Homo sapiens: one gene and its partner. The protein of the gene in region 1 interacts with the protein of each later gene in a pairwise test. Each region holds a gene or a part of one and is shown in the gene's direction. Other genes may lie near its edges.

The links. The genes of interacting proteins can lie anywhere in the genome.
Region 2: the proteins of BCAR3 (region 1) and NEDD9 interact in binary tests that used the Homo sapiens proteins (3 or more experiments, as listed by UniProt).

What each region holds. Positions count from the first base shown.
Region 1 is NC_000001.11:93,591,055-93,594,803, reverse strand, and holds part of BCAR3 (breast cancer anti-estrogen resistance protein 3), read left to right. Parts: exon of another isoform or gene 1-2,389; coding exon of another isoform or gene 2,390-2,410; coding exon 2,411-2,539; exon of another isoform or gene 2,540-2,836; intron 2,837-3,636; exon of another isoform or gene 3,637-3,749. UniProt on the Homo sapiens protein: Acts as an adapter protein downstream of several growth factor receptors to promote cell proliferation, migration, and redistribution of actin fibers.
Region 2 is NC_000006.12:11,190,958-11,194,706, reverse strand, and holds part of NEDD9 (enhancer of filamentation 1), read left to right. Parts: intron 1-1,014; coding exon 1,015-1,116; intron 1,117-2,260; coding exon 2,261-2,362; intron 2,363-3,501; coding exon 3,502-3,749. UniProt on the Homo sapiens protein: Scaffolding protein which plays a central coordinating role for tyrosine-kinase-based signaling related to cell adhesion. As a focal adhesion protein, plays a role in embryonic fibroblast migration.

The sequences.
Region 1 (3,749 bases):
AAATAAATTTTCAACAAAGAACTGTGCAAGACCTGCTGTATATTTTCAGATCTCCACATTTTCAGAGGTCAGACCAAGAAGTGGGCCCAGGGTGCAGCACAAGGGATTTAGGCTAAGCCTGCAGACTGCCTGTCAGGGTGACTCAATGGGGGTCAGGTCACAATATGGGTTAGGATTTAGTTCAGCTGCCAGTGACGGGAACACCCACAAATCACAGGCTTCCATAAGGTAGATCACCTAGAAGACCTGGAGGCTGGCGGTCCAGGGCTGGTGTGTTGGCCCCACAGTCATCAGGGACCCAGCCTCAATCAGACCTTCCACCCAGCCAATTCCTTGGTGTGGCTCCCCACTCACCGTCCAGAATGGTGTTGAGTCTCCAGCCATCACATCTCAGCTCCTTGGTCAGAACTGAGTCCTGTGGCCACATCTCCCTGGAAGAGACAGAGATTGAGGAATGTGGTCTTTTGGCTGAATGGCAGCATGCCCAGCGAAAACAGGGCTTCAGATGACTTGAGGGCGAAAGGGAGAATCTCCATAACTAAGCAAAGTCAGCATCTTTTCTCATCCTAGGGTATTTGTTTACTGAATACCCAGTGCCTGATGTTTTCAGGCATTGCTCAAGGGCAGTGGGGAAAAAGTAGATGGATTTCTGTTTTCATGAAACTTACAGTCTAGTGGGAGGCAAGTCAGACAATAAACGAACAATAAAGCGTGGCCGAGTTGACAAACTGCATTCCACACTCAAGCTGTCTTCAGATGAAGCCGTACAATATTAATGATGGGAGCGGACGGTGTCAAACATCACCGTCTAAAGCCTGCAGGCACCCTGGACAGCCAGCGTCCGCATCTCTTTGATGCAAATTCCATCCTTCAGACACTCCCAAGTGAGTGTCTGCCCAGTGAGAAGGAGGGAGAAGTAAACAAATAGTAAGCCAGAGCCCCATCTAAAAATCAGCCCCTGAGTTACTCTTCAGCTAGCGCTCCTTATGGGCCAATGTGCAAAGAAGCACTAGAGGATGAGAATCTAGCCCTAAAATTCCAGGGCTTTGTTGTTGTTGTTGTTGTTGTTGTTGTTTGGTGGAAAAGGATTTGGAGCTATTTCTTTGCTGACGTGCAAAGTAGTGTAATAGGCCGGGCATGGTGGCTCACGCCTGTAATCCCAGCACTTTGAGAGGCCAAGGTGGGTGGATCGCTTGAGCCCAGGAGTTTGAGACCAGCCTGGGCAACATGGCAAAACCCTATCTCTAAAAAAAAAATTACAAAAATTAGCCAGGCATGGTGGCACGTGCCTGTTGTAGTCCTAGCTACCAGGGAGGCTGAGATGGGAGGATCGCTTGAGCCCAGGAGGTTGCTTGAGCCCAGGAGGCCAAGGCTACAGTGAGCTGAGATTGCACCACTGTGCTCTAGCACAGTGAGACCCTGTCTCAAAAAAAATAAAATAAATAAACATTTTTAAAAAGTAGTGTGATAAGTAATAATTTTGTGGCTCCCATGGGGGTTTGAAGGACAAGCTGGGAAACTTGGGAGAACCACAGGGACACAGCCTTTTTCTGTTCATGGGACTTTCAGCAAGCGGTTCCTGGTCAGCATGCCTGGTCTTGCTGGGAACTGGGCAGGTTTCCAGGTTCAGTTCACATGTTGTAAGCAGGCATGGTTCTAAATTAAACCTGGAGCCACCGCTGTCCACCCAGCACTCACTGCCATGGCCACTGTGCAACGCCGCAGACCACTGATTCTCAAACATCTGAGGTGAAGGACCAGGGTTGTCTTTTTAAATTTGTTTCACTTTCCTATCTGTCATAAAAATGAAATATTAGAAATGTGAAATAAAGACAGACTTCTGTTATTAGATTCAAGAGACATAAAATTGCTCTGTCCATTTGCCCTAAAAGTTTCTAAAGACTGACTCAATTCCTGAACATGAGTTTACCAACAGCAAAGAAGTTAGGGCCATCGCTACCAGCCCAAGGACTGTGCTTTGGGCCTCACTGCCCAGAGGCCCAGGATCTAAGGCCAGAAGGGAACAGCTGCCCTCCCCACGCTATGTCAGGACAGTCCTGAAGGAGAATGAGGAAGCTCTCCGCTGGGAAGAGAGCAGGCTGGGCTGCTGTGTCTTGCTGTCTGTACATCTCTCTGGCCCTTCCTGCCCAGCTGCTTGAGTAGACTGGTAAAAGGAACCTCTTGGTGGACTCTCCTACCATAGTCCCCATGTGCAGGTGAAAATTTTATTACATGGTTGCGGCCGGAGAAACGAAAGGTCACAGCTCTTTGTAATCATTATCCAGGCTCCCCTACCTGAATGCAGGCTGTAGCATAACTGGTTGGATTAGTGAAGCAGGCGGTCACCTCCAGCTGGCATGGCCTGGTGTGGCCTGGGCAGGGTGAGCTCATGGTTGACTCTGTGTTGCAGTTCTCCAAGGAGAGGCACATCATGGACAGGACCCCCGAGAAACTGAAGAAGGAGCTGGAGGAGGAGCTGCTCCTGAGCAGCGAGGACCTGCGCAGCCATGCCTGGTACCACGGCCGCATCCCCCGACAGGTACCTGGTCTTGTCCCTTCCAGAGCATACACGGCTGCTCTCAGGCAATGTACAGATTGATGACCCGCAGGGTCCCACTCCGAGGCCACATGGGCGGAAGCACCTGTGTAACCAAAAACAAATACTCTAAAAATGACTTCATTTAGACCCTTCTCTAAGAAGACCTTGGGAAGAGCTGAGGTCAAGAACCCAAAGCACACATCCACATGTTCAGGAAGTGAAGGGACAGCCAGCGCTCCTGGGGTCTGCAAGCACAGCGTTGTGGGAGGCAGCAGCCACAGAGTCAGTAACCGGAAGAACTAGGAGGGCGGGCTGTGGCCCAGGTAATTGAACTCTTGGCCAGCTGCCAGCAGCCTCAGACCATTTGCAGCCCCTCCTTCTCAAGGCAGTGGCTTAGCTTCGGGAGGAGAGAGGGCAGGTGGCCCAGATCAACAAGGCTGCCTCTGCCCCATTGAGCTGGCAGTTATTCACACTCTCCATCACTTCCCTACTGGATCCTGTGACCCAGAGGTGGGAAAAAAGGGGAATTAAACCCATGACCACAGACTCATGGCCCAGAATATACTTTGTGATCGTCATTTGGGTGATTGCCATAAATAATGTTTTTTCATTTAATACTGTAAAAATTGAAAAATAGAGTAAGTCTGCAGAATTGAGGCATAGAATTTCCCTTGGGTTTTTATTGTAAACCTGATCTGGCCAATCATTAACCAAGGACAACATGACAGGAAGTGTGTGGACAGGGGCTGGGGGGAAGGGCATCATGTCGTAAGTTTTTTTTCTTTTTTTTGAGACAGAGTCTTACTCTATCACCCAGGCTGGAGTGCAATAGCACAATCTCAGCTCACTGCAACCTCTACCTCCTGGGTTCAAGCGATTCTCCTGCCTCAGCCTCTCTGGTAGCTGGGATTACAGGTGTCCACCACCATGCCCTGCTAACTTTTATATTTTTAGTAGAGACGGGGTTTCACCATGTTGGCCAGGCTGGTCTCGAACTCCTGCCCTCAAGTGATCCACCCACCTCAGCCTCCCAAAGTGCTGGGATTACAGGCATGAGTCACTGTGCCCAGGCTTTTTTTTTTTTTTTTTTTTTTTTAATGTAGTAGATTTCTTGGCACAATCAAATAAATAATTATTATTCTGACTTTGTTTTTTTAAGTTTAAAATTGATTGTAGAAAACATAGATAGCAAAAAGAAGGAAATTAAACT
Region 2 (3,749 bases), on another chromosome or scaffold:
GTAGGTACTGTTGGGGATGTTTTCTTTCCTGGTGGAAATGGGAAAATGATTAGAGACCAGAGGTCAGGAGACCTGAATTCTGTTCCTGGTGCCTCCCTGACTCAGTATTTTGTTTGTTTGATACGTTAGAATGAAAGCTCCCAGAGGTTTCTAAGGACAGCACAGTTTGAGCATTGGCTTTGTAAAAGTACTCTGGTGACCTGTGGAATTACAGTTATAATCATCATAATAATGTCCAATGAAGAGGCATACTGAGGAAGGCATGAGAGGAATTTTAAGTGGCTAAACTCTATTTGCATTATTCATTTTACAAATTGTTTCAGAGCCTTAAAGCAAATTTCAGTATGCGGTACTTTAGATGCAAAATGCTCCTCTAGGACTTTCATAAGTTACACACAAGTATCCCTTAAAGTATATTTCAGAAATATGCTTGCAGTGCATCAACTCTATCTGATGAACTTTGAGATGATCACAATTAAGGGTGATAGAGATATTTTAGGGATTTTTTTTCTCATTGGGATTCAAGAGGGATTTAAAAGTTTACTAACCTGGGCCAGATGCAGTGGCTCACACCTGTAATCCCTGCACTTTTGGGGGCTGAGGTGGGTGGATCACCTGAGGTCAGGAGTTTGAGACCAGCCAACATGATGAAACCCTGTCTCTACTAAAAATACAAAAAATTAGCTGGGCATGGTGGCGTGCACCTGTAATCTCAACTACTCAGGAGGCTGAGGCAGGAAAATCACTTGAACCCGGGAGGCAGAGGTTGCTGTAAGCTGAGATTGTGCCACTGTACTCCAGCCTGGGGAGCAAGAGCAAAACTCCATTTCAAAAAAAAAAAAAAAAGTTTACTAACGTGGTGTCTACTTGTCTCCTTCCTGTTATGTCTTCTTTCTTTGGTTTCTTTCTATCTTTTTATGAGGGAGAGTTGAGGGATGAGTGCTTAGTTAGGAGGCAAGGAGATTCAAGGACTCAGGCTTGGAAATTTACACCTCTGTGCCTTCTCTCCCACAGGTGATAACCCCCGTGAGGACAGGCCATGGCTACGTATACGAGTACCCATCCAGATACCAAAAGGACGTCTATGATATCCCTCCTTCTCATACCACTCAAGGGGTGCGTACCAGAACATGGTCACAAGAGGAGAAGCGCTTCTAAGGGTAGCATTCCTTCAGGGCTGTAGAGAAAAGGGAGTTCACAAATTATGCATTAATATATGTCATATGAAGCTTTGTTTAGGTTGTCTACCCAGTAGCCACTTTAGCCAATGCTATTTAAATTATGTTTTCTGGATTTGCTTTATCAGGAAATCCTAGTATTTCACCCAAGAGAGCTTATGTTCTTCTACAATTTTGCTTCAGAAAGTAGATTTTTCTTTTTTCTTTTTTTTTTTTTTAAGACAGAATCTCACTTTGTTGCCCAGGCTGGAGTGCAGTGGCTCTATCTCAGCTCACTGCAACCTCCACCTCCCAGGCTCAAGCAACTCTCCTGCCCCTGCCTCAGCTTCCCAAGTAGCTGGGACTACAGGCACACACACCACCATACCTGACTAATTTTTGTATTTTGTAGGGACAGGCTTTTGCCATGGTGGCCAGGCTGGTTTTGAACTCCTAACTGCAAGTGGTCTGCCCACCTCGGCCTTCCAAAGTGCTGGGATTACAGGTGTGAGCCACGGCCCCCAGCTGGAAAGTAGAAAATTTAAACTACACTTTAAAGTACAGACAGCGTAGATATTTCACATAAGATCTTTTTTTTTTTTTTTTTTTTTTTTTTTGAGACAGAGTCTTGTTCTGTCACCAGGCTGGGAGTGCAGTGGCACGATCTCAGCTCACTGCAACCTCTGCCTCCCGGGTTCAGGCGATTCTCCTGTCTCAGCCTCCCAAGTAGCTGGGACTACAGGTGTGCACCACCACACCCAGCTAATTTTTGTATTTTTAGTAGAGATGGGGTTTTACCATGTTGGCCAGGATGGTCTCGATTTCTTGACCTTGTGATCTGCCCACCTCAGCCTCCCAAAGTGCTGGGATTACAGGCGTGAGCCACCGTGCCTGGCCAAAATCATTTTTATATTAAATGTAAGTTAAAAACCATAAAATGTATTAAAAAAAAAGGCAATAAATCTGTTATAACATGGAGCACTGCCAAAGATCAAGCTTGTACATAACCTGGTAAATAAATCCATAATTAAGTGCTTAGGAGCATAAAAAATGACCAAGTATAAGACATTTCCATTCTGGGTAACTCACGGGTTTCTCTTCAGGTATACGACATCCCTCCCTCATCAGCAAAAGGCCCTGTGTTTTCAGTTCCAGTGGGAGAGATAAAACCTCAAGGGGTGTATGACATCCCGCCTACAAAAGGGGTGAGTGAGTGACTACAAAGCAGCAAAAAGGAGTGTGTGTGTGTGTCTGTGTGTCGGGGGGTGCAGGGTTGGGAGGGTGGGTAAGTAGTTCACTCGAATAAAACAAGAAAGGCAAACCCAAAAGGGGAAAATGTAGTCTTGGTGAGAGTAAAGGAAGGAAGCAAAAAAGGAAAGGCACTAATTAAAGATAGCTCTAGGGATTTCATATTGAGAAGCCCCAACTAAAAAACACTAGGTGGCCAATAAGGATAACCCTTTGGCAGGGAAGATAATTAGTTCAGTTTGGCAAGTACTAATATATATTTGTAGAGGGTTTGTTTTGTTTTGTTACATTTTGTTTGAGACAGGGTCTCGCTCTGTCACCCAGGCTGGAGTGCAGTGGCGCAACCACAGCTCATTGCAGTCTTTACTTCCCAGGCTCAAGCAATCCTCCCACCTCAGGCTCCCAAGTAGCTGGGACCACAGGTGCACGCCACCATGACTGGATAAATTTTATTTTTTGTAGAGACGGTGTCTCCCTATGTTGCCCAGGCTTGTTTTGAACATATGGGCTTAAATGATCCTACTACCTTGGCCTCCCAAAGTGCTGAGATTACAGGCTGAGCCGCGCCTGGCCTGTAGAGGGTTTGACAGTTTCCTCAGTGTGTATGTTTGAGTGAACTCGTTTGACTCACTCTGTTACCCTATGGGGTATGCCTGCACAGGAGGCACAGTAATCCCTACTTTACAGACAAGGGGACTGTGTTTCAGACGCCTATGCAGCTCATTCAGCATCACACAGCTGGTGTGATAACCAAAAAGACCGGGGGAGAACTCTGGTCTTACTCTGCCTCTCGGCACAGATCAGCAGAGAAAGGATACCCAGGAGGTGGTCAGAAACACAGGACTGGAAACACAGGGTGAGCAATTTAGCCAGGAGGGTTGTACATACGAGTCTGCACCAAGAACGTGGGGTTGGACACACTTGGCAAAGGACAAGGGAAGTGACAGCAGAATAACGGGGAACCTTGGAAGTGCCTAACATTGGGGCGGGGGAGGGCGACCGAAAAAGTGCCAGCAAATAGGACTGAGCACATGGGACCACAGGTTCCCATGAGCCAACTCAATAAATAGCATTTCGCTTTCTACTTGCTTTGCAGGTATATGCCATTCCGCCCTCTGCTTGCCGGGATGAAGCAGGGCTTAGGGAAAAAGACTATGACTTCCCCCCTCCCATGAGACAAGCTGGAAGGCCGGACCTCAGACCGGAGGGGGTTTATGACATTCCTCCAACCTGCACCAAGCCAGCAGGGAAGGACCTTCATGTAAAATACAACTGTGACATTCCAGGAGCTGCAGAACCGGTGGCTCGAAGGCACCAGAGCCTGTCCCCGAATCACCCACCCCC